Regions from separate parts of the Homo sapiens genome. Here regions 1, 2, 3, 4, 6 and 7 are each reported to be linked to region 5. Evidence: microRNA targets listed by miRTarBase, many of them from high-throughput screens and not tested one by one. Region 5 holds a microRNA gene; each other region holds the end of a gene's coding sequence.

What was found. The annotated mature microRNA hsa-miR-4635 reads UCUUGAAGUCAGAACCCGCAA and lies in region 5 at 1,454-1,474, shown strand. An mRNA with a match to its seed (bases 2 to 7 or 8) in the 3' UTR can be bound and repressed. Matches are read on the target gene's strand: a 7mer-m8 pairs with bases 2 to 8, a 7mer-A1 pairs with bases 2 to 7 and ends in A, and an 8mer does both.
Region 1: miRTarBase lists NEK7 as a target of hsa-miR-4635. Seed matches in the 3' UTR shown: 7mer-m8 at 1,784-1,790.
Region 2: the mRNA of MTR is a reported target of hsa-miR-4635. Seed matches in the 3' UTR shown: 8mer at 2,231-2,238 and 7mer-A1 at 2,106-2,112.
Region 3: miRTarBase lists GPR107 as a target of hsa-miR-4635. Seed matches in the 3' UTR shown: 7mer-m8 at 1,382-1,388 and 7mer-A1 at 662-668.
Region 4: the mRNA of NCOA4 is a reported target of hsa-miR-4635. Seed matches in the 3' UTR shown: 7mer-A1 at 2,769-2,775.
Region 6: miRTarBase lists AGPS as a target of hsa-miR-4635. The part of its 3' UTR that is shown has no 7-base or 8-base seed match.
Region 7: the mRNA of ZNF517 is a reported target of hsa-miR-4635. Seed matches in the 3' UTR shown: 7mer-A1 at 1,783-1,789.

What each region holds. Positions count from the first base shown.
Region 1 is chr1:198,318,705-198,322,771 of GRCh38, forward strand. NEK7 (NIMA related kinase 7) reads left to right here. Exons shown (of 10, transcript NM_133494.3): 10 at 708-3,716. The coding sequence ends at 818. Among named protein-coding and RNA genes, the nearest start is that of NEK7, 160 kb to the left of the region's middle.
Region 2 is chr1:236,897,144-236,901,206 of GRCh38, reverse strand. MTR (5-methyltetrahydrofolate-homocysteine methyltransferase) reads right to left here. Exons shown (of 33, transcript NM_000254.3): 33 at 1-3,649. The coding sequence ends at 3,563. Among named protein-coding and RNA genes, the nearest start is that of MTR, 100 kb to the right of the region's middle.
Region 3 is chr9:130,134,845-130,138,911 of GRCh38, reverse strand. It overlaps GPR107 (G protein-coupled receptor 107), which reads right to left. Exons shown (of 18, transcript NM_020960.5): 18 at 1-3,887. The coding sequence ends at 3,791. Among named protein-coding and RNA genes, the nearest start is that of GPRACR, 7.3 kb to the left of the region's middle.
Region 4 is chr10:46,003,125-46,007,191 of GRCh38, forward strand. It overlaps NCOA4 (nuclear receptor coactivator 4), which reads right to left. Exons shown (of 10, transcript NM_001145263.2): 10 at 1,964-3,473. The coding sequence ends at 3,468. It overlaps TIMM23 (translocase of inner mitochondrial membrane 23), which reads left to right. Exons shown (of 7, transcript NM_006327.4): 7 at 79-618. The coding sequence ends at 194. Among named protein-coding and RNA genes, the nearest start is that of SNORA74C-1, 21 kb to the left of the region's middle.
Region 5 is chr5:1,060,311-1,064,377 of GRCh38, reverse strand. It overlaps MIR4635 (microRNA 4635), which reads left to right and starts at 1,404; the gene lies at 1,404-1,482. It overlaps SLC12A7 (solute carrier family 12 member 7), which reads left to right. Exons shown (of 24, transcript NM_006598.3): 19 at 126-295; 20 at 403-534; 21 at 3,927-4,034.
Region 6 is chr2:177,537,889-177,541,955 of GRCh38, forward strand. AGPS (alkylglycerone phosphate synthase) reads left to right here. Exons shown (of 20, transcript NM_003659.4): 20 at 186-4,067. The coding sequence ends at 307. Among named protein-coding and RNA genes, the nearest start is that of IFT70B, 13 kb to the right of the region's middle.
Region 7 is chr8:144,808,065-144,812,131 of GRCh38, forward strand. ZNF517 (zinc finger protein 517) reads left to right here. Exons shown (of 5, transcript NM_213605.3): 5 at 1-2,020. The coding sequence ends at 331. It overlaps LOC100130027 (a long non-coding RNA gene), which reads right to left. Exons shown (of 5, transcript NR_147501.1): 5 at 746-3,012. Among named protein-coding and RNA genes, the nearest start is that of ZNF517, 11 kb to the left of the region's middle.

The DNA of each region.
Region 1 (4,067 bases), not on the chromosome of region 5:
CTACCCGATGGATCGAGGACCATATAGGAGGGTAGTTTCTTAATTTATTGAAATCTGCTTTTATTCTATGATATAAATAGAATAAAATAGTAAACCTCAACTCTCTCATCTATAAAGTGAGGACATTTAAATACTGTGTACACAATTGAGGATTGGAATAACACTTATAACTTCCCATATAATTTATTATAATTAGTTTAAAGGAGTGTTTTTTTCTCTAATACAAAATTTAACATAAAACTTTTAATATATATTTGTACAAAATGGTTCATTATAAATGTATGTCAACTCTAATTGCCTTCCATTTAAACTTACAATTAAGTCTGTTGTAGTAGATTCTAGATCAAATATGTATGTGTGTATTTACAGTTAACTTGGAGACTTATAGTTATAAGACTAGTGTCCTCAGTGACTGCTATCTTCTGATTAAACTCTGAAAAATTAAGAGAGTCCATTTTAAAGCCTCTGATTGTGGAAAATACTTCTTGGTTGACATTAATACTGTCCATTCAATGCACTTCATAGAACATTTAACTTATTGTAAGATCATTGGCAGCAGTCTTATATATATTTCTAGTACAGTGAATGTTTAGTCAGAAAATGTACTTTCCTTGTAAAATCTATAGCTATTCATAATTTCTTCCTCTCAGTAAACTAACCAAAAATAGTTGTCTTAATCAGGTTTTATTGTTTTTCTTTCTTCACAGCTCCGACAGTTAGTTAATATGTGCATCAACCCAGATCCAGAGAAGCGACCAGACGTCACCTATGTTTATGACGTAGCAAAGAGGATGCATGCATGCACTGCAAGCAGCTAAACATGCAAGATCATGAAGAGTGTAACCAAAGTAATTGAAAGTATTTTGTGCAAGTCATACCTCCCCATTTATGTCTGGTGTTAAGATTAATATTTCAGAGCTAGTGTGCTTTGAATCCTTAACCAGTTTTCATATAAGCTTCATTTTGTACCAGTCACCTAAATCACCTCCTTGCAACCCCCAAATGACTTTGGAATAACTGAATTGCATGTTAGGAGAGAAAATGAAACATGATGGTTTTGAATGGCTAAAGGTTTATAGAATTTCTTACAGTTTTCTGCTGATAAATTGTGTTTAGATAGACTGTCAGTGCCAAATATTGAAGGTGCAGCTTGGCACACATCAGAATAGACTCATACCTGAGAAAAAGTATCTGAACATGTGACTTGTTTCTTTTTTAGTAATTTATGGACATTGAGATGAACACAATTGTGAACTTTTGTGAAGATTTTATTTTTAAACGTTTGAAGTACTAGTTTTAGTTCTTAGCAGAGTAGTTTTCAAATATGATTCTTATGATAAATGTAGACACAAACTATTTGAGAAACATTTAGAACTCTTAGCTTATACATTCAAAATGTAACTATTAAATGTGAAGATTTGGGGACAAAATGTGAGTCAGACACTGAAGAGTTTTTTGTTTTGTTTTAATATTTTTGATATTCTCTTTGCATTGAAATGGTATAAATGAATCCATTTAAAAAGTGGTTAAGGATTTGTTTAGCTGGTGTGATAATAATTTTTAAAGTTGCACATTGCCCAAGGCTTTTTTTGTGTGTTTTTATTGTTGTTTGTACATTTGAAAAATATTCTTTGAATAACCTTGCAGTACTATATTTCAATTTCTTTATAAATTTAAGTGCATTTTAACTCATAATTGTACACTATAATATAAGCCTAAGTTTTTATTCATAAGTTTTATTGAAGTTCTGATCGGTCCCCTTCAGAAATTTTTTTATATTATTCTTCAAGTTACTTTCTTATTTATATTGTATGTGCATTTTATCCATTAATGTTTCATACTTTCTGAGAGTATAATACCCTTTTAAAAGATATTTGGTATACCAATACTTTTCCTGGATTGAAAACTTTTTTTAAACTTTTTAAAATTTGGGCCACTCTGTATGCATATGTTTGGTCTTGTTAAAGAGGAAGAAAGGATGTGTGTTATACTGTACCTGTGAATGTTGATACAGTTACAATTTATTTGACAAGGTTGTAATTCTAGAATATGCTTAATAAAATGAAAACTGGCCATGACTACAGCCAGAACTGTTATGAGATTAACATTTCTATTGAGAAGCTTTTGAGTAAAGTACTGTATTTGTTCATGAAGATGACTGAGATGGTAACACTTCGTGTAGCTTAAGGAAATGGGCAGAATTTCGTAAATGCTGTTGTGCAGATGTGTTTTCCCTGAATGCTTTCGTATTAGTGGCGACCAGTTTCTCACAGAATTGTGAAGCCTGAAGGCCAAGAGGAAGTCACTGTTAAAGGACTCTGTGCCATCTTACAACCTTGGATGAATTATCCTGCCAACGTGAAAACCTCATGTTCAAAGAACACTTCCCTTTAGCCGATGTAACTGCTGGTTTTGTTTTTCATATGTGTTTTTCTTACACTCATTTGAATGCTTTCAAGCATTTGTAAACTTAAAAAATGTATAAAGGGCAAAAAGTCTGAACCCTTGTTTTCTGAAATCTAATCAGTTATGTATGGTTTCTGAAGGGTAATTTTATTTTGGAATAGGTAAAGGAAACCTGTTTTGTTTGTTTTTCCTGAGGGCTAGATGCATTTTTTTTCTCACACTCTTAATGACTTTTAACATTTATACTGAGCATCCATAGATATATTCCTAGAAGTATGAGAAGAATTATTCTTATTGACCATTAATGTCATGTTCATTTTAATGTAATATAATTGAGATGAAATGTTCTCTGGTTGGAACAGATACTCTCTTTTTTTTCTTGCAATCTTTAAGAATACATAGATCTAAAATTCATTAGCTTGACCCCTCAAAGTAACTTTTAAGTAAAGATTAAAGCTTTTCTTCTCAGTGAATATATCTGCTAGAAGGAAATAGCTGGGAAGAATTTAATGATCAGGGAAATTCATTATTTCTATATGTGGAAACTTTTTGCTTCGAATATTGTATCTTTTTAAATCTAAATGTTCATATTTTTCCTGAAGAAACCACTGTGTAAAAATCAAATTTTAATTTTGAATGGAATAATTTCAAAGAACTATGAAGATGATTTGAAGCTCTAATTTATATAGTCACCTATAAAATGTTCTTTATATGTGTTCATAAGTAAATTTTATATTGATTAAGTTAAACTTTTGAATTGATTTGAGGAGCAGTAAAATGAAAGCTATATCTATTCTAAACCTTATTTAGACATTGGTACCAGTTACCCAGGTGAAAATATGGAGTAACTTTGTTTTGTATGGTAAGGTTTAGGAATGGTGGATGAAGGGTATCTCTATATAAATAAAGTGCTCAACAATGTGCAATGATTGTAAATTTAGTAAGATATTACAGCCATTTCATGAATGCTTTACCATTCAACATAGTATCTATTACAAAACACCTTTCTTGTATCCATATACTTCAGGTGTTGCTGTTAACATTTACTATGATATTTATTTTAACCAAAATGTTACTCACATTAAATGTTTATTCTTTAAAATGAATGTATTATGTTTTTAACCCACAAATGCATACTTACCCTGTGCCTCATATTTCAATAGTACTGTAATATGGACATCTTTTGTGAAATACTTTTATTTTGTTATGCTTTAAATATACATACAAAAAGATTTCTGTTATTAGCTTTGAAAATTGTATAATATCCTAATATAAACAAAAATATAAAAATAAAAATGAATACAGTAAAATGTCTGGGTATCTATGATTTTTTCCCCTAAAGTCTTCCATTTTTTATTTTACTTAATACTTAATGTACAGAAACAGTTCTTACGCATTTTCATAACTTTGCCATTTTGGAGAAGCTTAAGAATTGGAATAGACAAGGGTGATAACAGAGATTACACAAATCCTAAAAAGTAGTTTTATCAACATGCATTAAACTAAGGACATCTTCAGGACATCATTTTCTGTTTTTGAATGAGAAACGTTTTCTAAAAGGTAAAAAAAAAAAAAAAGGAATATTAATCTTACTGCTTTGAATCTTTAGAGCAGGGGTGTCCAATCTTTTGGCTTCCCTGGGCCACATTGGAAGAAGAATT
Region 2 (4,063 bases), not on the chromosome of region 5:
CAATCCCATTCCCAGGCCTCTTTGCAGCATTGGGTTCTGCTGGCATGCTTCGAAACGCTCTTCATTGCTTTCTCGGCATTGCACTCTCCCTCCTGGCTTCCTCCAACCCACAGCTGCTCCCCTGCTGGCTCCCCCTCCTCCTCCTCCAGATTCTCTTCTCCTCATATGCTCCATAGATGATCCCATCGCACTGCAGCCTGACCTCCATCTCCACGTTCAAGTCTCTCAATTCTAACTCCAGACATTCTTTTTAAATTCCAAAGTCTAGTATCCAACTGCCTATATTCAGTCTAGTCACATCGAATCTTTCCAAAACTCATCATTTCTCCCATCCCCTGGCCTCTGTCTTAGCAAATGGTCCAGCCATCCACTCATTCCCCAAAGCCTGGTATCTGGGCACTGCTGGCAGCAGCAAGGATGCACCACTCTCCTGCCCCTCACCTTTCTAGCTGCTGTTTACCCTAAGATGTTCTTCCTTTCCTTAAAAACTGTATTTGACATATACAAACATTACCTACAAAATCACCATACCAGATTTTAGGTTATCATTCCACTTTGCCTTTATTTTTTATAATATATTTAAGTAGAACATATTTAATATGTAAAAAACTGTTATCTATTAGTTATAAAGTATAATGTATTAATAGCATATAGTAAACACTTGTAAGCCTACCAGGAGGAACCAGAACAGCTGCATAACTTGGCATCTACCTATGTGCTCCTGTCCCTTCCACTTCCTCCTTCTGTGGGTAATTACTATGCTCAATTTTGGTTTATCAGTTACCTTCTTTTTTTTTAATAGCATAGTTTTATTGTATACGTATGCTTAGACTACATATTCTTTGGTTTTGCTTGTTTTTGGGCTCAATAAAAATAGTACGCCCCATGTGGTCTCTTCAAACTTGCTTTTTTCCTTAATATTTTCTGAGATTCATTCTTATTGTGAGGTATAGCTGTAGTTCACTCATTTCCACTACTGAATAATATCCCGTAGAATGAATATATATATCTAATTATTCACCTATTTTCCTGTAGACAGACATACATTTCACTTTTTCCAGTTATTAACTATTATAAATATGTAACTATGAACATTCTTACACATTCCTCCTAGTGGCCACATGCAAGAGTTTGCTGGACATACAGGTGGGAGTTGGAAGCAAGATCATAACGTCTGCAAATGTTCAAGTCTGTAAGGGATAATTGTTTTTTAAAGCAGTGGTGCCTGTTTACACATCCACAATGTTGTACAAGTCCCTACAGATCTAACAACTGGTACTGTCAGACCCAACCTTTGCAAATCTTATGGATATAAAATGGAATCTCATTGTGGTCCTAATTCATATTTCCCTGACCAATGCTACAGAACATCTATTTATTTAAAAGCCCTATTTCCTCTTGTGTAGTCTTCACTATTTTTCTATTTTTTTAAATAGGAATTCTCTATATTTGTGATTATGAATCCTTCATCAGTTATTTGTATTATAAATGTCTTCTCAAGTTGTGGATCATCTTCTCACTTCAAGTGTTTGCTTAATATAAGCCTTGAGTTTTAACAGAATTGACTTAACCATCTTGTCCTTTATGATTACTACTTTATGTCTCAAGAGATTCTTTCCTGCCCTAAGGCTTTTTTCATCCAAACACTGACAATTTTTGCTTTTTGTATTAAAGCCCTTAACATATTTGGAACTTATCACCAGGTAAGGTGAGAGAAAGTAAAATTTCTTTTTTTCCCACATGAATAGCCATTGTTCTGGGATTACTTAGGGAGTGGTCCTTCCTGTCCCCACTGACTTGCCATGTCACCAGGTCATTTTGCAAAGGTCAACATATGCACGGGTGAGTTTCTAGGCCCTTATTTTGTTCCCCTGCTCAGAATGCCTACCTCTGCACCATGACACTGTCTTGACAATAAAACTTGGTATCACATAGGGTGCGTGTCCCCAACCTCTCCTTCATATTTAGAAGCATTTGGTAATTTTAAGTCCTTTGCTACTCCATATAAACACCTGCTTGTTTCATTCAATAAAATCTGTTGGAATTTCCATTGAAAATGGTATTAAATCCATAGATCAATTTTAGGAGACCTGATACCTTTATAATCTTGAATATTCCTATTCATGAACAAAGATGGTTCTTCATTTGTTCCTCCCTTGCTTCTTCGTCTTCATCCTTCGAATCAAACCAGGACTCCAATGTTACCTTCTCCTGACTATTGCCACCACCATCTTGAAGTAGGATGAGTGTATATTTTGCATGCAAATTTTTGAAATAACTGCAATCATCCAAGAAAAAGATGACATGGTTGAGTTTGAGGCTTGTTGCTTGAGTGGTGGCACCATTCTTCATTACTGAATATATTGAGAATTGAGGGGAATAAAATGGTAAGAAATGAGTGACTTTATGCTGCCCACTTGTCCAACTCCGCACGGGATATCAGAGCCCAGCTGAGAACCTGCTCAATCCTGGAAACAATTAAAAGATGTTAACCGGCCAGGCTCGGTGGCTCACGCCTGTAATCCCAGCATTTTGGGAGGCTGAGGTGGGCAGATCACGAGGTCGGGAGATCAAGACCATCCTGGCTAACACAGTGAAATCCTGTCTCTACTTTTTTGTATTTTGTAAAAACACAAAAAATTAGCCGGGTGTGGTGGCGGGCACCTGTAGTCCCAGCTACTCTGGAGGCTGAGGCAGGAGAATGGCATGAACCCAGGAGGCGGAGCTTGCTATGAGCCGAGATTGCGCCCCTGCACTCCAGCCTGGGCGACAGAGCCAGACTCTGTCTCAAAAAAAAAAAAACCAAAACAAAACAAAACAAAAAAAATGTTAACCACCCTTAACAGTAACTTTCTCTCCTCATTTCCTTTTTGTTTCCTCAGGGGTACGGAAATATGAAATTATGGGAGGACGAAAATGCCCAGAAAGCATGGCTGCTTGACCACACTGGGGCAAATGGCTTCAGTGTTTCTGACAAGCAAGCAGTGAGCGCATGCCTTTTGCCAAAGGGAGTTCTGCAGCCATTTAGTCCAGCCTTTAGAAAACGAGGTCTTCCGAAGAGAACAGAGCTACACCTTCCCCGTCAGAATCCACTGTTATAACCACTTAGATTAAAATGCCCCATTTCTCACAGTATCATTTTGTCACAGGGTCACACTTCTCTATTCAACTCAGTTTCAGGCTTTTCTTCTAAGAGGAAAAAAAGACGACTAAGTGGCCTCCTAGATTCCACTGTAAAAACAGAAAAAAGCAGGTTGACTTGCTTTGAAATCAAACGACCTCTGTCTTCAGTCTGTCCCCATCTCAGAGGGACCAGGGAAACCACAGGAACCCTGCTCACTGCTCTTCACGCAAGGTCCCAAAAAAACAGCGCCTGTTTTCCAGGCACTGCAGGAAGACCCTGCTCCTCTACAAGGTTCCACTAAATAGTCTTCGAAAACCAGAAGCAGGTAAGTGTCAGCCAGATGCACACAGGTTTTTTGTTGTTGTTATTTTTAAGGCACCCTAGGTTGTATTTCCTTGAGGATCATCAAGAATAAAAAAGGCAAAAAAAAAAAAAAAGTTAGTCTGTATCATATCCCAAAATGGGTCCAAGCCATTTCTCAACCTCAGCCACAGATATGTTCTTCCTCAATGCATAATCCTCAACCTGCAAAAGATGAGAAGCATTTTATTAAACCAACATGATAAGACTTTTGGAATAGAAGTTTCCACAAGATTTGCCAAGAAACATTAAGTACCTTGCATTTCTTGTCTTAATAGCAATCTACAGAGTTAAATGGAGATAGATATTTATCTACCAAGTTGCCTTTTTCTCTGGGCAGAAAAACATGTAGTAAACATCTGATGCTTAGAAGCTGTATGTGTGTGTGTGTGTGTGTGTGTGTGTGTGTGTGCGTGTGTGTGGCTTGCATGTAGAAGTGAGGGCTAGAATAGAGGTATTCTATTGAAATCAAATTAAGACATTAACTGGAGTAAATTTCTTCATCCTTTCCCCTCACTTTATTCTCATTCACATTTAAAATGAGAGAGGTTCTAGAATTTCATTTGAACTAGGCAAGCC
Region 3 (4,067 bases), not on the chromosome of region 5:
AAGAAAATGTTTCAGGACGGGGGAGAAGGCCAGAATGCATCTGCAATTCCAACAGGCATCGCTATGCTCTTCCTTGGTCTGTAAGGACTGGATGCCTGGAGTAGACTGTTTTAAGTACCAAAACAAGACACCCATTTTAGTGTGGAGGAAGACCAGCCTATATGGCCCAGAGCAATAATATTTGGCATGAGTATGCCACTCTTGAGAAAATTCTCCTTAGCTTAGAAAATGCATCTTTCACACAGCTGCTGGGAGAAAACGCTGCAATGCACCAAAGCCTTTAGCCGGTGTACCCAGAATGAGCCTATGTGGGATCAATAGGCACGGGGAGAAAGATGGCAGAGAAGGGAAGAGGAGGGAGGAGGAGGGAAGGAGGAGGAGAAAGAGGTGGAGGAGGGAGGAGGAGCGGAAGGGGAAGGGGGAGGGGTAAGGGCGAGGGCAGAGGAGGAGGGGGAGGGGATGGGGAAGGGGGAAGGGCGAGGGCAGAGGAGGAGAGAAGAGGGAGGGAGGCTGTGGAATGAGACAGCAGAGATGGCGATGAGGTCATCACGCAGGAGGAAATCTCACCCACACGAGGTGGACTTACAGGGCTGTGTGCTGCCTGGGCAGGCTGGACATGTCCAGGGCGGGGAAACCCTGGATATTTCACTCTGAAGTGGTTTCTTGAAAGAAAACTCAACTGACTCAGGCCATGAGCATCTTTTACACTGAAGCAAGCATCTCCTCACAAGTGCCTCCTACAAGTCACTAGAGTCATATTCAACATTACAAAATGCAGTGCTACTTAAATTTTAAAGCACTGAGGGACCAAGAAATGGGCTGATCAAGTCCTTGGCCACTCACTGTTAAGAGCCAGGATTTACAGATCAATGACTGTTCCTATTGTCCAAGAAATAATTTTCTAGCAAAGCATACACACTTTATTAAATTTCACAGCCAGCAGCGCTTTCAGTCCACAACAGATTTCTCAGAGGAAACATGGATATTTTGCGTAGGCAGAAACAGTGAGGAGTACAAAGCAAAGCTATAAATACCACCAATGGTTCTGCTATGTGCATCCGATATTTTTTGCCCGATCTGAAATACTGCAAGGGCTTAACCATTCAAACACCGCATGACAACGAACCCAGTGGACTGTGAAACTCAGGCTGCAGGAGGGTGGCTTGTCAGCTGGTGAAGCCACTTGGCTTTGGACTCCATCGGTCATCTTTACGCAAGAGCAGAGATGAACGGTGGGTCACGGCTATGACGTGAAGGAGAAAGAGAAGACACACTCACAGAACAGGATGGAGAGCTTCAATAATTTTTTAAAAGCTTGGAACCACCACCTGCTTTCCCAATCTTGGGCTGGGGTTTTGACTTTTCTTGATCATCAATCTGACTTGAAGCCTTTTACCAGTTACAATACAGACATGGCCAGATGACCTGCTTGTTAGGAAGGCTGTGGCCATCTTTGTTTCTGAAACAGTCTTATCTCATCTGTCCACTGCTGCTCTGGAAGGGTCAGGACCAGCACTGCAGACACTCGGCCATGCTGTGAGTGAGCCCAGACATACGCGTGGAATCTGAACACCCAACGCTGGCGTTCCCGTGCCAGTCTGAGGGCTGCGGCTCCAGCGCTTGTCCACACACACGCCTGCCTCTCTCTAGTTCCTCCACTGCCTGGCTTCCTCGCTTGCAAAACCCAGCATGTGAAATGAGGACACCTCCACGGAGACCCTTCCGAGCAGGGAGGTTTCATCACACCTTTCGTTCTTGCCAAGGAGTCTATCGCCTCATCCACAACATCTGCTTGCGGGAGAAACAGCAAATGTGTCCCTCTGAGGGAAGGACTGAGGAGGGCTTTGGTAGTCACAGATTGAGACACATTTCTGCGAAAACTGGTATTATGTTTCTGCACAGGAAAACAAAGTGTTAAAAATATTCCCATCCTCCCTCCAACTCCCTTCTGTCACACAGTCCCAAGTGAACTTGAAAAAGGTCCAGAAGTGAACACTTAGGGTGCATTTACCTTTCTCCTGAAGATGGGAAGACACACGGATGCTTGCCTAAAATATCTGCCGAGAGGTGAGCAGCTGTGGCCTGGGAAGGCGCTTGCTCTTCCTCCACATCAGCCAGAAGGCAGATCACACCTTCAGAGCACCCTACAGAACCCAGATGGCGAATCAAAGTGCAGAAAAAGAACACCCGCTTCCTCATTAGTCATTTAGGAAGATAAGATAGCATGGGACAGGGAGAACAACCATGTTCTGAATGGAGACTTTTTCAGGTTCCCAAACTTGGGACAGTGAGTGTGACCCCACATCCTGTGGTTTCTGCCTGACCCTTCTAAGCCAGAGGTGAGAAAACAACTCCCAGAGACCACGACTCTCACCCTCGGAGGTACCTGTTCCCCTGCAGGTGTGGCTCTCTGACAACCCCTAGGCAGGGGTGGGCTCCAGCTTTTGGAAGCAACCCTACCTAGCTGGCCCCCCAAGCATTAAGAAGCTTCCCTGATGGGGCCATGTTTTGGTCTCCTTTTAAGCCCTCAGTCACAATGTACCTTCTGAGCTTGTCCTACTATTCAGATGATTTTCTCTCTGAGTTGCAATACTGCTCAATTTAGGTGGCTACCTGTGTTCATTCAAGCTCTGGAAGTGTGGAAGGGAACTTAATCATTGAGTTTCTGTGAAGTATTTTGCCATCCTAAAATCCCTGAGAGTGAAACTGTTGAATCATGCTCACTTTCTTCACATACATACTCTTGGACTATGGGGACCAAGTCTGTTGAATTCATCTATTTAGAAATCCTACTAGCCTACAGGAAAAGCTTTTTAATGGGGATGATTTGCTTGGACTTAAGTATTTGCTTAAATACTACCTATTCTGCCCCCAGCTGCTCCTTGAGGAAAACTTTCCATTTCCCCCAAAATTCTGATCAAACACAACAAAGCCACAAGCATGAAGGGAAGCCAGACAGTGCTGCTCTGGGCTGTCAGGGAGTGGATGTCCAGGCAACGCCACAGGATAATGCTTTTTGAACTTAAAAATACATTTCTTTCCATCCATCAGGCAACATCTCAGTCAGAAAACCACCTCCCACCACCTGTGCTGTGCCACAGGGCATGATCCTGACAGCGACATCACAGCCTTCTTTTCCTGTTGGAAAGAAGACCACTGGGCCTCAGGAGCTGCTGTCCTGGTCACTCTCAGCATCTGGAATAAGGGTCTGGGGCAAAGCCGAGGGCAGGAATCCTGGGGCAGGTGCTACATCCTAAACTGGGTTTTGACTTTGCTTTCCAAAGTCACCTGTTTTCGTTCATTTTTGTCTCCCAAACAGGCAATGGCACTCTCCCCGCCCTTCTTCTTAAGTCCCAGGGTCCTCAGTAGACATTTCCTAAAGCATCAGACAGACACCTCGCACCCTCCTTCCCCCTCCACCAGCCGTCCTTGCTACACTTCCCCACACATGGGGTCACAACTGCATACACCTTAGAGCTCCGAAATGAAGAAGAAAAAAAGAAACCTAAATTAAAAATGAATTCTTCCTTTTCTCTTCCTCTCCTCCTCCCTGTGCCCGCCCTCCCATTCCCGCCTGAAAGAGGATCCAGCTGCCTCTAAACAGCCACAGATCGTTTCCATAAAAGAGAGTACAAAATCAGGTTTCCGCGGCACTGTGCTCCAGCCATGTGCCCTGGTGTCACTGTCGGTGGTGCCAATAGTTCACTGTAGGAGCTGCTCCTGCTGTCCAATAGGACTATGAATAAGTTAACAGTTTCCTTGGACAGTGCCATCCTCAGGGTCGGCTCTGTCACACGGCGCCTTCCCACTCGCCCTGGGGCTCCACGGAGCCGTTGGTCACCTTCTTGACTTTCTTCATACTTTCCATCACCCCAGATGTTGTCACACTGAACAAGGAAAGAAAAAACAATTAGGAACATCTCACAGTCTCTTAGTAAAAGGCCATCTCTGCCACAGCACGGTGATTAGGACTGATGATGGGTGTTGGTTTTTGAAACAGACAAAATCTAAGTGTGATTCCTGGTTCGTTCCTTACTAGCTGTGTAACCTTGGCCAAGTCACTTGAA
Region 4 (4,067 bases), not on the chromosome of region 5:
CTTTTTATTTAACCCTATCGTGCTAGGGCACTATGCAATATACAGCTATTTCATTTTCCTTTTGTCTCTGTTTCCCAGGTGGTCTTCGAGGGATAGCACGAGGTGGTCTGACAGGACTAACACTTACCAGCCTCTATGCACTATATAATAACTGGGAGCACATGAAAGGCTCCTTGCTCCAACAGTCACTCTGAAGATTTTGCCAACTCATGAATGGAGGACACTTCAGTAGTCATCTAGATCCTTTTATAAGACAGTTTGGAGTTATTCTCTCTCTTCTACCTACAATTAGTTTGAAAAATTGGAGATTTTGATTTGCTGTGATGAAAATCCTGGATGGCTGACCAAGACTGGCACTTGTTCCAGCCATTAGTGAGTTGAAGCCAAAGCCCTTTGGTGACTCACTGAGTACCATGGTTCTGTTCTCCTCTGGAGATCTTGCACGTATCTGTTTTCCTCCCCCATGAACTAGAAAACCACTTACTCCCAGAATTCAGGTCGTGCTTGTTAGTACTATATCACCAAGTCCATTCATTTAATGATCCAAAACTGTAATGTTGCACTGTATTCCAAATAAAGGGTAAAAACAGAACCAAAGTTATAACTCCAACACACAAACATAGTGGTTGTCTCAATTTAAAAGTATCTACCTGGGTATAAAGTGAAAGGTACCCTTGGCATTTTTTGTCCCAGTGGGCAAAACAACATCTTCGTGTTTGTGTTAAAATGAGCTACTTGGTGGCCGGGTGTGGTGGCTCACGCCTGTAATCCCTGTACTTTGGGAGGCCAAGGCAGGTGGATCACCTGAGGTCAGGAGTTTGAAAATCAGCCTGGCCAATATGGTGAAACCTTGTCTCTACTAAAAATACAAAAATCAGCTGGGTGTGGTGGGTGTGCACCTGTAACCCCAGCTACTCAGGAGGTTGAGGCTGGAGAATCGCTTGAACCCAGGAGGCGGAGGTTGCAGTGAGCCCAGATCATGCCACTGCACTCCAGCCCAGGTGACAGAGTGAGACTCCATTTCAAAAAAAGAAATGAGCTACTGGTGGCATTCACCAATAGAGCTGGTACTAAACCACCTCAAGGTATTTCAGGTCAGCCGTTAGACTAGTATGCTAGAACAATCTTTCCAACAATCCTGCTTCATTCCATACATATTAACTCACACCTTACTAGGAATAATTAAGAGCTAGGTTTTTTTTTTTTTTTTTTTTGAGACAGGGTCTCTGTTCCCCAGGCTGGAGTGCGGTGGTACAATCTCAGCGCACTGCTGAGATTACTTGAACACCTCCCGGGTTCAAGTAATTCTGCCTCAGTCTCCCAAGTAGCTGGGATTACAGGCACTTGCCACCATGCCCAGCTAATTTTTGTATTTTTAGTAGAGGCGGGGTTTACTATGTTGGTCAGGGTGGTCTCGAACTCCTGACCTCAGGTGATCCACCTGCCTTAGCCTCCCAGAGTGCTGGGATTACAGGCGTGAGCGACCGTGCCTGGCCAAGAGCTAGATGTTTTTCAAGGAAGCCTTGGGAAAACTAAAGGACATGAGGCCAAATTGTTTAATTTCTGAGTTTGTTTTCTCATCCACCATATGAAGTTAATCATGTATAATTGCACTACAGGTTATACACATAAATATTACTGTATTAAATACCTGGTGGCTATATGATTGGAGAAAGTAAACTAGGGCCTCTTCGGATGCATCTAGTAAGAGGAATCCAGTAGAAAGGCACTGAATCTTGGCTGAAGTCCCATAGGTTTTTTTTTAATAGATGTGAATAGTTTTTATAAAAGACTGAAAATGGAGGTTAATATACCTATTGTTTGCTAATTTTTCATAAAATACACTGATGTTATTTTTATGTTCAAGCTGTTTCTCAGCTGGATTACTAACCAAAAGTTACCACGTTATGTGGTACCACACCACACTTTGTGACAAATAGTTTTAAAAATAACACGCAACAACTATGGCTGTTATGCTTTTAATGGAAGCAGATACAAAATTCATCAATGCAAAAGAATGTTTTACATACTCATTAACATAGTGATTAATGTAAATTATATTTTGACTTGTAAAATACAGTGTGTTTGGCCTCAAGAAACTACAGAGCTGCAACTCAAGATAACTGGAAAGGCTCCTTACATTGTTTTTGCCCACCACCTTTATATAATACTCCTAAATGATATCTGGGGAGGGAATTAAAAAATAATACAAAGCTCTTTTCAGCTGTGGTTCAAAGAACTCTAGTGAAGCTGTATGGCAATGACATTTTGGGACCATGAAGTTTCCCCAGAAGTATTTCCGGTAAGAGGCAGTTAAGAAGCTTAATAGTTTCAAAGTCTGGAAAGCAGCAAAGATATCTTAGAGAAAACATTATAAACCCCACTTCTCTCCTACACAGACATTTTAAAGCATGGACGTAACTTTAAGGAGACTGAGAAAACATCAGTAGTTTTCACAAAGCTTCAATGAACACCCCAAGGCACAAGTGTTGAAAACGGCCTGTTCACTAAAACGTCACTTTTGGAGGTACAGGTATGCTGTGCTTGCAGTGAGAGGATGACTTTATCCCTACTTAAAAGCACCAGGTGTCAAGCTCAGCTTCCATTTACACAGGATGCACCAATTATCCCTATGATAGTGACTGTTTCAAGTACTATACTACATTTCCAACATGTCTTTTGCCTATTTGCTTAGTCGGTACTGGGGTTCTTTTAAGCCCCGTAGGTCTGTAGAATATTTTAAAAGGCTAGAATTACCTCAAAAATAGTCTTGAAATAATACTGAGTCCTTCTAAAGAGCTCACTGGATATTTTAATAACATTTACAGAAAGACAAAATTTGCAGTAGCTGAGTTTAAGTGAAGAATAATGTAGAACTAACGTGGGCTAAAATGTTTCATAATTAATGTCAAAAATTGCCAAGATTATTAATATATATTTTGGTAATCACTATTGACCAGGTTAATTTTTTTGTGCAAAATACACTATGTATTAATAGAACAGGAAAATAATTATTTCAGACCACTAACAAAAGAAAACCCACAGCAAGAGAAGCATCTGTAGGGCAATTAAACGTTAGGGAAGTTTACTAGCTTTAGAATACATCAATATACTTCGATAAACAAGAGTGTTTTAATGTACTTTTAGTAACGACCCAATCTAAGGAGCCTTGGAGGCTTGTGAAAAAGACGTCCACAAAGATGCTGCATTTCTAGTGTGGGGTGAATTAAAATACTTCTGTAAGAAGGAGGGAACTGAATCACCTCAGCATGAATAAACAGCATTTTTCTTTTAAACAGTAACTCATAATCTGATGACTCACTTTGCTTTACTAGTTCAAAATTAGGCAGGAGAAGAACTAAGCTAATTGGTCAGACCCAGAAACACAAAGATTTGGCAAGCTGCAGTCACTCAGCTCATGATGTGTGATAATCAGCAGAAAGGCTGCTCAACTCTTGTCCATTCCTTCACATCTGTAAAGAGACACCCACAGATGATAAGTTACTTCAATGAAGAATAAAAGCAAATTTTCCCTGCCTTAAAGCTCCGACTCATTTCCCAATACAGGTATACCCTTGTTACATTGTATTTTTTACAAATTAAGCATTTGTGTCATGAACTATGCCCATTAAAGATGGTAAACTTTTCATCAATAAATGTCCTGAATGCCCACCAAACAGCCTTTCCCTATTTCTCTTCTCTCTCCTCAGGCCTCCCTGTTCCCTGAGACAAAACAAGATTGAAATTAGGCCAATTATTAACCCTACAATTGCATCTAAGTGTTCAACTAAAAGGAATAGTCCCCATCTCTCACTCTTCTTTAAATCAAAAGCCAGAAATGATTAAACTTAGCGAGAAAGTCATGTTGAAGGCCACGAGAGGCTGAAAGCTGGGCAGGCCTTTTGGACCAGCCAAGCTGTGAGCACAAAAGCAAAGTTTTTTGTTGTTTTTCAGCTTCTCATTCTCTGGCTGAAAAGTTCTTGAAAAAAACTAGAGGTGCTACTCCAGTGAACAGATGAATAATTTAAAAAGCAAACAGCCTTATTTCTGATATGGAGAAAGTTTTA
Region 5 (4,067 bases):
TGGGGGCTTTGTGGGGACCCCCCTCGCCTCGCCGTGCCCGCCCCTGCACTGGCTGTGAGTCCCCGGGGAGGCCCCTTCCGCACCCTGGCCTCAGATGACCTGCGGACGGCCGCCTCTCTCCGCAGACACCGTCCGCGACACCACCGCCGCGCACCAGGCTCTGCTGGTGGCCAAGAACGTCGACTCGTTTCCGCAAAACCAGGAGCGCTTCGGCGGGGGCCACATCGACGTGTGGTGGATCGTGCACGACGGCGGCATGCTCATGCTGCTGCCCTTCCTGCTGCGCCAGCACAAGGTGGGGCGTGCGACGGGGACACGCCAGCCGGAGCACGGCCACCCCACGTGCTGCGGGCCGGGACGGGCTCCTCTGAGGCCCCACAGCCATGCCCTCCCTGTCTGCAGGTGTGGAGGAAGTGCCGGATGCGTATCTTCACCGTGGCCCAGGTGGACGACAACAGCATCCAGATGAAGAAGGACCTGCAGATGTTCTTGTACCACTTGCGCATCAGCGCCGAGGTGGAGGTGGTGGAGATGGTGAGTCCCGAGGGCTTGAGGGGAGGAGGCCGGGGGGAGGTGGGGAGGAGGTGGGGGGCGGCCCGGGAGGGCTGTGGGCCTCGTGAGGTGGGGGTGGAGGGGGAAGTGGAGATCGGGAGGGCTGTGGCCTCGTGAGGTGGGGGTGGAGGGGGAAGTGGAGATCGGGAGGGCTGTGGCCTCGTGAGGTGGGGGTGGAGGGGGAGATCAGGAGGTGGAGGTGGAGGTGGGGAGGAGAAGGTGGTGGCGATTGTGGCGGGGGCTGCCAGGCCTTGCGGGGTGGTCAAGGAGGCTTGGTTTTGGAATCGCCAGGACATCACAGAAAGCACAGAGCCCCGTGTGTTGCTTGTGGACACCTCGTGTAACACGGGTGTGGGTGTTGCCCTAGAGCCGGCATCAGCATCTCCGTGTCCTCCATGGTCCCGTGTCCTCCTCGGCCCGGGACCCCGTCCAGGACCTCACACCTCAGTGGTGTTGCCATGGTGGGTGCACCTCTGAGCACCTCCCGTTTTGGGTGCTCTCCCCAGATGGGCTCACCTTCCCACGGCTGGAAACCACACATCAGCAGTCGGGACCCGGGGAGAGGGGCACTGGTCAGTGAGGCCAGGCTGCAGCTGTCACGTGGGACAGACAGGCCCTCGGTCAGCTATAGGCAGGGCCTGGACAGAGACTCGTCCCGTCCTTCACGCCTGGAGAGGACGGGGTTGATGGGCGGAGGCCTGGCATTGGAGCGCTTGCCCCCGGCCCCCAAGCATGGAGCTCTGGATCCTGGGGATCTGGTGGGCCCCTTGTGCTGGATGGAACCATGCCTGCTCGCTACCAGCCCACCCGGATCCACGGCTGTGCCTTCCCCTCCGGTCCTGCTGGCGGTCCCGGGACTTTGTGGGTTCTGACCCCACTTGGATCACGCCGACAACACTGGTCTTGAAGTCAGAACCCGCAAAGTCCTGGTTTCTTCCGGCTCCCGTGACCCCAGCGCATGGTTTTGCAGGTCCTCAGGGGCCTGGACTCCTGGAGGTGGGTGCTGGGAAGACATAAAGCTGGATAGAGACTGTCACGCTGTCCCCCAGGAAGCCACCTGTGCCCCTGCAGCAGCCTGGGAGGTGCGGTCTCTCCAGCCCCGCAGCCCCCCAGTCCCCCAGTCCCTCAGTCCCCCAGCCCCCCAGCCCCCCAGCCCTGGGTATGGCAGAGGCCCCGAGCACCTGCTCCTGGTTTGTGTCGGGCTGTGAGTGAGGCCAGGCACGGCTTCGTGCCTCACCGACAACCTTCTGTGTTTCTGTGTCAGTTCCCGTGGAACTCAGTTGTCCTGTGGGGTTGTTCTTCCTCTTGCCCTGCAGGACCTTTCCTAGGCCGAGGGCTGCAGGCCTGCGTGACGCTGGATGGTTTTCTGCCCAGTTTTGTACACTGGGCTTAGTTTCCATGTGGCTGTGTCTTCGGGGACGATGGCTGGAGTTTGTCTTGTTTGGACGAGGCTTTGCGGGTTCAAGGTTGTAGGGGTTATTATTGGTGCTAATAGTCGTATGAATAACGTTATTTCCAAGTCATAAAACCGCTTAGTAAAATAGTAACAAAATGCTGCCTGGGAGAACCAGCCCTGCCAGGGGGCCAGGTGGGGCGGCCACTGGGGCCCAGAGGAAACAGGCAAAGTGAGCCCATGGCCCCAGCCGCACCCCCAGCCCCTCCGTGGTGCCAGAAGCAGCTCCCCAGCTCCTGAGCAGGGGTTGTTAGCTCTGAAGTCCGGGAACCTGGAGCTCCCAGCACCCCCCATGCTCCCAGCCATGTCTCTGGCAGGGCTGGGGCTGCCCACCCCTCCGTAGCCCTGGCCGCAGGGACAAGTGCCACCTGGCTGGAGAGGGGCGTCTGGGTCGCTGCCATTCAGTCTGGCATGCTGTTTATTTTTTTAAAAAAAGTTTTGAGACAGAGTCTCGCTCTGTCCCCAAGGCTGGAACCTCCACCTCCTGGGTTCAGGCAATTCTCCTGCCTCAGCCTCCTGAGTAGCTGGGACTACAGGTACACGTCACCATACCTGGCTAATTTTTTTTTTTTTCTTTGTATTTTTAGTAGCAATGGGGTTTCACCATGATGGCCAGGCTGGTCTCGAACTTCTGACCTCAGGTGATCCACCCGCCTCGGCCTCCCAAAGTGTTGGGATGACAGGTGTGAGCCACCGCACCTGATCTGGTGTGCTGTTTTAAATACTGGTGCTTAACAGGCACAGCTGCTCCCAACTCCCATGAGCCGGGTGCGGCGGGTGAGACACAGGGATCCCGCACGGCGGGTGCGGTGGGTGAGACGCAGGGGTCCCGCATGGCGGATGCGGCAGGTGCGGCGGGTGCGGCGGGTGAGACTCAGGGATCCCGCACGGCGGGTGCGGCGGGTGAGACTCAGGGATCCCGCACGGCGGGTGCGGTGGGTGAGACGCAGGGGTCCCGCATGGCGGATGCGGCAGGTACGGCGGGTGCGGCGGGTGAGACTCAGGGATCCCGCACGGCGGGTGCGGCGGGTGAGACTCAGGGATCCCGCACGGCGGGTGCGGCGGGTGAGACTCAGGGATCCTGCACGGCAGGTGCGGTGGGTGAGACGCAGGGGTTCCGCATGGCGGATGCGGCAGGTACGGCGGGTGCGGTGGGTGAGACGCAGGGATCCCGCACGGCGGGTGCGGTGGGTGAGACGCAGGGGTCCCGCACGGCGGGTGCGGCGGGTGAGACGCAGGGGTCCCGCACGGCGGGTGCGGTGGGTGAGACGCAGGGGTTCCGCATGGCGGATGCGGCAGGTGCGGCGGGTGCGGCGGGTGAGACTCAGGGATCCCGCACGGCGGGTGCGGCGGGTGAGACTCAGGGATCCTGCACGGCAGGTGCAGTGGGTGAGACGCAGCAGTCCCACACTGTGGATGTTCCGGGTGAGGCGCAGGGGTCCCGCACGGTGGGTGCAATGGGTGAGACCCAGGGTCCTGCATGGCGGGCGCTGAGGTTGTGCTGTGGCTTCTCCATGTGTTCTGGGTGGGTTTCCCATGGTGCCAAGCCCCCCTGAGCATAGACAATGACACCTGTGAGCGTGGATCATGCAGCCCCATGGGGCAGTGCCTCGCCCTGAGCCGTGTGTGCCAGGTTGGTTTGTGGCTGTGGCCTTGCCCTCACAGCTGCCCTTGTGCCCGGTCGGAGGGTCCCGGGGAGGGACATGAGCAGAGCGTGTGTGCGGCGTGACTGCCCATCGTGCGCTCACACCTTCCTGGCCACTGGGCGGGGGGCCTGAGAGCCAGAGGGGGCCTGTGGGGCCCGGGACGCGTGGCCTTTCCCACCGCTCAGGGCGGCTCGGTCTCTGGGTACCGGGCTGGTGTTGGAGCCATCCGTGGTTCTGTGCACACCGGGCTTACTACGTGCTTGGGAACTTTCTAGGTTGAAAACGACATATCTGCTTTCACCTACGAGAGGACACTAATGATGGAGCAGAGGTCGCAGATGCTGAAGCAGATGCAGCTGTCCAAGAACGAGCAGGAGCGAGAGGTACGTGGGGGCCGTGGCCACAGACACCAGGCT
Region 6 (4,067 bases), not on the chromosome of region 5:
TGGGAATACATTGGGCTTAATGAGCTTGATAGTCTGGTGGGCTCAATAAATCAAATAAAGCAAAACATTTCTCATTTTTGAATAAAAGCATTTATCACACAGTGTTTGTTCACTCATGGTCACAAGATTGATTGGTTCCCAGTATCATAGCATATATTGAAGCATTTTTGATTTTGTTTTTCCAGTGGGCAAGTTACGGAAGCAATGGCTAAAGGAAAGTATCTCTGATGTCGGCTTTGGGATGCTGAAGTCTGTCAAGGAATATGTGGACCCCAATAACATCTTTGGAAACAGAAACCTTTTATAAATCCATTAGTACCATTACAAAAAAATGTCAATTTTTTTTTTAAGTTTTCAACTGTGGTTATACTAGTAATCAAATATATCATGGACTATATTTTGGATACATTTGTTTCTTTGGTTTAAAATAAGTTTGTTTTCATTCTGTAGTTTGTTTTGTTTCTACATCTATGGATTGACAGATAGTATTCCTAAATCTCTCTCATTGTAGGTACATCATTTTACATTCAGCGGTTGTCATTTCAAATTTTAGTCAGGCAGCACAAAGCTGTCAATTATTCCAGAGGAAGCTGCTGCCAGCTGTTTTGTATTGTTGCTTCCTCTTGGGGAACAAAGACAGATTTGGTATCATTGATTGCTCAGCTAGCCTCTTTTTAAAAGAACGTTTCTGGGAATCAGATGTCTAGGGAAGGATTCCACTGAGGAGTGATACACGTGTACATTGTTTAAGAGCATAGTCTAGTGTGAGTAGGCCATTAAGGGGAAGGATATTCATGAAAGAATTTAGGCAACCTGTTATTTAGAAAGCCTTCACGTCTGTAAGGTGCTTGGCCTACTTTTTTTTTTAAATTAGTATACATGCATAAAACCTTGTATCATCAATATACAAATTATTCTGTTAGGGGACATGTTTTTGTTCTCCATGTTTCTGTTTCTATTGTGGTATGAGTTGTATTTGTATCACTGAGATAACCTATTGTTATATTCTAATTCATTGATAATATGTTTTGTAAGAAAAGCTGACATCCTTCATTGCAAGTGAAGAACAGGTTTACCATGAAATGAATGCCTTTATTCAACTTAGAGTCCTAATGTTTCTGATTTCACATTCTTGTTGCTGAAATGCAGAAGAAACAGCTACAGCAAGAGCAGAAGGAAAACTCTTAGACTTAATGTCTCCAATTGCAAGAATTGTTTCACTAAAGAAACAGTCATCATTCAACTACTGAATTTGAAAGCCTCAGCAGTTTCAATGACAAAAATCATTTTTGATTTTTTAAAATTAATCCCAATGGCATGATAAATTTTCATATAAAAAGTAAAGTTTCAATTTAGTTTTTAATAATGGTTTAATGCCTTTTTTGAATAACTGGTTTAACCTAATTTTTTTTAAATGTAATGTATTAATGCATATACCATAATCAAAAGTTTGAAATATCCTGTTTCTTAAATAATGAGAACATTAATCACATTTAGCAAGCATTTGTACATTCAAACCTGGATATTAAAGTGAAATGATTACTTTGAATCACTGTCTGCCAAGGTTCATGATTCACATTTTGAGATGGATTCTTTTCTTAATGCAATACCTAACTTTTGATAATTTTTTAAAACTAATATTTGATCAGATAATGTAAGTCAAAATGCAGACGATCCTTTAAAAGGATGCATTGTCTGTGTATGTAGCAACAGCTCCAAAGTATTTTTGGGCAGTTTGATACCTTTTATATCTGAAGTAGCCTTAACCAGAAAAATGGTAATTTAAAATTGACAAAATGATATTTTTAAGACTTCAAAATGATAAATAATTTTTAACTATTAAAATTGGCCTCAAACTAATAAATCTGTAATTAAATTAGAATTAAATATCAGTTTAACAACAAAATGAAATATTTATTTTTTAGAAGCTGCCTCTCTTCATTGGTCATTTATTTTTAATTATAAAATTTCCAACAGATCTTTGCTTTAAGCCCTTGATATTTGACCTAGTTGGACACTTGATGAGGAAGTTGCCTCTAGAATTATAAAAATCTCAGCTTTATAAAATGCATCTGTTCACGAAGGTAATTTCTTTAATTGGTGATCAAAATATAAAATTAAGGTACTAATGTCTCACTGGAAGTATATATATATATATATATATATGTATGCATGTGTGTGTGTGTATATATATATATATATATATGTATATGTTTCTGAGTAATTTTTAAAAAATAAAACAGGTTAATAAGAAGATCCATTCCTTTGCATGTGATTGTTATAACATTCTTTCCCAGGGAGTTCAATTTCAGCAACCTCAGAAATCCATACTTGATATTAGGAAACTGTAAATGTAACACCTGAAATTATTATGTTCACTATTCTACATGAACCTTATGGAAATTCATGATTTATGTCTTTGTTTTTCTTTTTCCAAGTATATGCAGGACTCCCCAACCTTGATTTTATAATGGTGACTGCATTTTGTAGGTGGAATCATTTCTACCGAAATCATTTTGAAACACAAGAATATTGATCAGTACTGTTTCACTCTGATTTAGTAAATCAGAAAGCCTCCCCCTACCCCCAGCCCCCACTTTCACATACCTTCTGGGAGGTGCCTCAGTATAGACTTGGTATCTGTGAAGGACTGAGTTCATGAATATGCACAGAAGCACTTAAACCATGCCTCTTATTTCTATAATATCTGAAAATGGCTTCATAAAAGTTAAGTCAGGAGAACACTGTTTACATGACACTTCTTAACTCATTTTTAATGTTTATTTTTAATTTCAAAAACTTGTTGCCTATTTGGTTTTCAGTACTGCATAACACTGACTTTCTTAAATTAGTCATAGTTGCAATAATTTACTTAAATTTGGTAATGTCACATTTGGGTTGGGGTTTCAGTGGGAATAGTAACTTGCCGCTAGTGAGAAATGGCATTGAATACTAAAGACTCAATATGAACAGGCTTTATAGACCCTTAGAGAAACTGTTGCCTTAATGTTTGGTGCAATTTCTAGTAGTGCATAAGTGAATTTAGTCTTATGATAAGTAACTTTGAGCTGTTTTTAGCTTAGTAAGAATTGTGGAAACCACATGTTTATTGTGCCCATCATTTTACACAAAGAAAAGAGGATTATATTATTTCTTCTAAGGAAGTAGGAGTTTTCTTCCTAAAAGTGCTTACATATTGTAGTACTATTACTTAAAAGTTATTTATGAAGTTGGGAGCCTTCTAGTTTGCCTGTGTTGATGTATTTTGAAAACAAAATTGCAATAAAGGATGAGCTTCCATCGGTGTGTATGGTATACCAGATACAGATGGTTGCAAGGAAACCTTTTCCCCCACTAGAATAGTCTATTAGTAACTGCTAAGTCCTAGCTTGCATTTTTGAAAATGCCTTTCTGCATGTTAGCACCCAGACTTTCCTTTGTCATATTCCTTTATAGCTACAACTTAACTGTAGCTTATCAGAGAAGCTCTGTAGTCCTACACTGAAGTGTGTTCCCTTGGCTGTTCATATGGGGCTGGGTTTGGTTGAACTTCCATTCTGTATAAATGCTAGAACACAGTTACTACAGATTGATTCACAAACTGCATGTGCTGGTGCTTGAGGCAGCCAAAATGGAATGCTGTGGAAAGCATATCTATATCTTAAAAAACACTCAGACAGGAGTTAAGGACAGCTTTAATAATTTTTTTGTTTACCACTTAATCTTTATCAACTTTGATTTTAGTTAGGGCTTAGCTCATGGTTGAAGAAAAGTGGAAAATAACAAGTGCCCATTTAGGTTTGAAGAATCCAGAATGTTTTACCTTTGACTTTATGAGTTATAGAAGCTTGGCTTTGCTCTAGGCTTCATGTTCCCAAATGAGCCATCTGTCAGTATATTCACTTAATTCTTACTAATTTCAGTTTCCTGTAAAGGAAACAACTTACATATTGATGCTTAAATCCAGAAAGTGTAAAAGGTTTTCTTAAACTGTTAAAATATAGTGTCTGATATAAAGGATGTAAGTTACTCAGCTTTCTGCTCCCTAAGCCAAACAGTGTTTGTCT
Region 7 (4,067 bases), not on the chromosome of region 5:
GCTGCTGCACCTGCGCCTACACACGGGCGAGAAGCCGTTCGAGTGCGCGGAGTGCGGCAAGGCCTTCGGTCGCAAGTCCAACCTCACTCTGCACCAGAAGATCCACACCAAGGAGAAGCCCTTCGCGTGCACCGAGTGCGGCAAGGCGTTCCGCAGGAGCTACACGCTGAACGAGCACTACCGGCTCCACAGCGGCGAGAGGCCATACCGGTGCCGCGCCTGCGGGAGGGCCTGCAGCCGGCTGTCCACCCTCATCCAGCACCAGAAGGTGCACGGCCGCGAGCCCGGGGAGGACACAGAGGGCAGGCGGGCGCCCTGTTGGGCTTCCTGATGACGGGGACGACAGGCCGAGGATTCACGCTGGAAGCCCACCCAAGCCGGCGGGGCCCTAGCGCAGAAATTCAGAACCCCCTGTCCTGAAGGTGAAGCAAAGTCTAAAGAAAGGGCCAGCTCCCATCAGGAGCTCGGCTTCTTGCTCCAGCCGGGCACTGGGGAGGGAAAGGGCACCAGGCAGCCCGTGGTGTGGCCTCAGGAACCACTATCAGCCACCATTTCCTGGGGCCTTCCGGAAATGTCCAGGAGCGGGCAGAAGGGAGAGAGGGAGGGGCAGCTATGCTCAGTCCCCAAAGAGCAGGGCACAGGGGGCGCCACAGACGCATATGCAGCTGAGCTCCCCACAGGCCGGCCCGGGTCTTCGTGCAGAACCATTGGGCACAGCCAGGCCTTAGCGCCAGGCTCCGTGTGGCGGTCAATTCCAGGTGCTGTAAAGCCGACTAACAGGGTACAGGGAGCCTTAGCTGGCTGCCATGTCTCCTGCCTGTAATCCCATCACTTTGGGAGGCTGAGGTGGGAGGTTTGCTTAAGCCCAGGAGTTTGAGACCAGCTTGGGCAACATGGTGAAACTTCTCTACAAAAAATTTAAAAATAAGTCAGGTATCGTGGTCTGTGCCTGTACGCTGTAGTCCCAGCTACTCAGGAGGCTGAGGTGGGAGGATGGGTTGAGCCTGGGAAGTCAAGGCTGCAGTGAGCTATGATAGCACCACGGCACTCCAACCTGGTTGACAGAGTGACACCCTGTTTAAAAAAAAAAAGCCTAGATGGCTGGTGGAGCTCTATCTATCTATCTATCTATCTATCTCTTTTTTTGAGGCAGGATCTCTCTGTCAGCCAGCCTGGAGTGCAATGGCACAATCATGGCTTACTGCAGCCTCCAGCTCCCAGGCTCAAGCGTTTCTCCCACCTTAGCCTCCTGAGTAGCTGGGACTAAGGCACACACACTGTACTTGGCAGCTGGCGAAGCATTGTTTCTGAGTGTGTGAGGATGTTTTCAGTGGACTCAGTGAAGATCTGCCCTCAGCGTGGGCAGGCACATCCACTTGGTTGGGGACCCAGATGGAACACAAAGGGAGAAGACAAGCAAATTCTCTTTTCTGGAGGGAGACACCCATCTCCTGCCCTTGGACATCAGGACTCCAGGTTCTTCGGCCTTTGGACTCAGGCTTGCCACAGAGGCCTCCCAGGGCTCTCGGCCAGTCAGCCTCAGAATGAGAGTTACACCACTGGCTTCCTTGGTTCAACCACCTTCTTACCTGGACTGAGCCTCACTTACAGCTTCTCTAGGTCTCCAGCTTGCAGACAGCCTATGGGAGGACTTCTCAGCCTCCATAAGTGTGTGGGCCAGTTCGCCTAATAAATCCCCTCTCCTGGCCGGGCGCGGTAGCTCTCCCCTGTAATCTCAGCATTTTGGGAGGCAGAGGTAGGTGGATCACCTGAGGTCAGGAGTTCAAGACCAGCCTGGCCAACATGGTGAGACCCCCGTCTCTACTAAAAGTACAAAAAGTAGCTGGGTGTGGTGCTGGGTGCCTGTAATCCCAGCTACTCGGGAGGCTGAAGCAGGAGAATCACTTCAACCTGGGAGGTAGAGGTTGCAGTGAGCCGAGATCGAGCCACTGCACTCCAGCCTGGGTGACAGGGCAAGACTCTGTCTCAAACAAATAAAAATCCCCTCTCCTAAACTCCATTATTGGTTTTGTCTCTCTAGAGGACCCTAATACACTGCCCAGCAGAAGCCAGGAAGGAAGCCCTGCCAGCTCAGAAGGTGGGCCAGGAGAGAAGGGTGTGGCCGGAAGGGTAGCCGGTGGGGGTGCTGCATCCTCTTGGCCCCACGGGGAGCACCCTGTCACCCCTAACAGATGAAGAGAAGGTGAGGGGGGATTGAGTTACCTGCCCACTGGTGTGTCAAACTCCATGATGGGGGTGGGAACATGCAGACCTGGCCCCTCCAAGGCCCACTGCTCCCCGGGCTGTGCGCCCCACAGTCTGTGCCAGGGGCTGCAGAAAGAGCCATGGGAAGCCTGGCCCTGGTAGGGCACCAAGATGGGGAGGGCTGGATCCACCCTCCAGAGAACAAGAATCCTGGGCAGTAGCCGGGACATGGTGGGGGAGGCTGAAGGGTTGTCCCTGAGCATCCCCAACATGGAGCTCGGAAGTCTGGGCCATGGGCAGGAAAGCACGAAGGTCAGGGCCAGCCTGGGGAACCAAGAGCTGTGCCACGATCCCTTCCACCTGGGGCAGCTGCCCACATGCCCGCCACTGGGTTCCATCACCTGAGACTCCTGGCAGGTGCCTCTCTGAGTCTTTGTCCTGTGCTGGAAACTGGGATGTGCAGCACACATCTTCACACCCACAGCACGGACAGCGGGAATAACACTTCCTTTGGGGATCCAGGGTTTCTGGTGTCTCCAGATTTTTCAGGCGCCACCATGTTCCTCTCATCCAGACGTCAGCACCCAAGGTGGAAGCAGGTCATGGCATGCCCGGCCCAGCTGCAGTCCGAGTGCAGATCCCATGGCGAGCGTGGGATCCAGCCCAAAGCACAAGCCACGCACAGCCCGCCAGGTTGAGTGGGCAGGTACCTCCAACAGCCAGCCCAGGTTGAGTGGGCAGGTACCTCCAACAGCCTGGAGCCGTGAGGCCTTGCGCAGGGGCGTTGCCGGCCGTGGAGGTCTCTGGCTGGCAAAGTGGCACCGAAAGAGTCCTGTGTCATAACCAGACTCACTTGTAGCTTCTGTTGCTCTCCCTAGCTATTTGCAAAGCATCCAGGATAGGTTCATCTAAAGACATTCTGACTCATCTTGGACACGATCCACTTACTCTGTGGACCCTGTTCACAGAACCTGGAGTCCCTGCTCACCTTCCCCAACCCCTTATTGCTGGGTCATGTTCACAAGTTTCTGTCTCTTTTTGTTCCCAGTCCCGGTACCAGCTCAGGTCCAATCAGCTTCTGAACCTCTACTGTGCAGCGCCTGAGACAGGGTGGGAGAGACACCGACAGTAAAGCTCAGCCAGGTGCAGACTGCAGCCTGGAAGCAAAGGCTGAGACAGGGTGGGAGAGACACCGACAGTAAAGCTCAGCCAGGTGCAGACTGCAGCCTGGAAGCAAAGGCTGAGACAGGGTGGGAGAGACACCGACAGTAAAGCTCAGCCAGGTGCAGACTGCAGCCTGGAAGCAAAGGCTGAGACAGGGTGGGAGAGACACGGACAGTAAAGCTCAGCCAGGTGCAGACTGCAGAATGGAAGCAAAGGCTGAGACAGAGTGGGAGAGACACCGACAGTAAAGCTCAGCCAGGTGCAGACTGCAGCGTGGAAGCAAAGGCTGAGACAGGGTGGGAGAGACACGGACAGTACGCTCAGCCAGGTGCAGACTGCAGCCTGGAAGCAAAGGCTGAGACAGGGTGGGAGAGACACGGACAGTAAAGCTCAGCCAGGTGCAGACTGCAGAATGGAAGCAAAGGCTGAGACAGGGTGGGAGAGACACGGACAGTAAAGCTCAGCCAGGTGCAGACTGCAGCCTGGAAGCAAAGGCTGAGACAGGGTGGGAGAGACACGGACAGTAAAGCTCAGCCAGGTGCAGACTGCAGAATGGAAGCAAAGGCTGAGACAGAGTGGGAGAGACACCGACAGTAAAGCTCAGCCAGGTGCAGACTGCAGAATGGAAGCAAAGGCTGAGACAGGGTGGGAGAGACACCGACAGTAAAGCTCAGCCAGGTGCAGACTGCAGCCTGGAA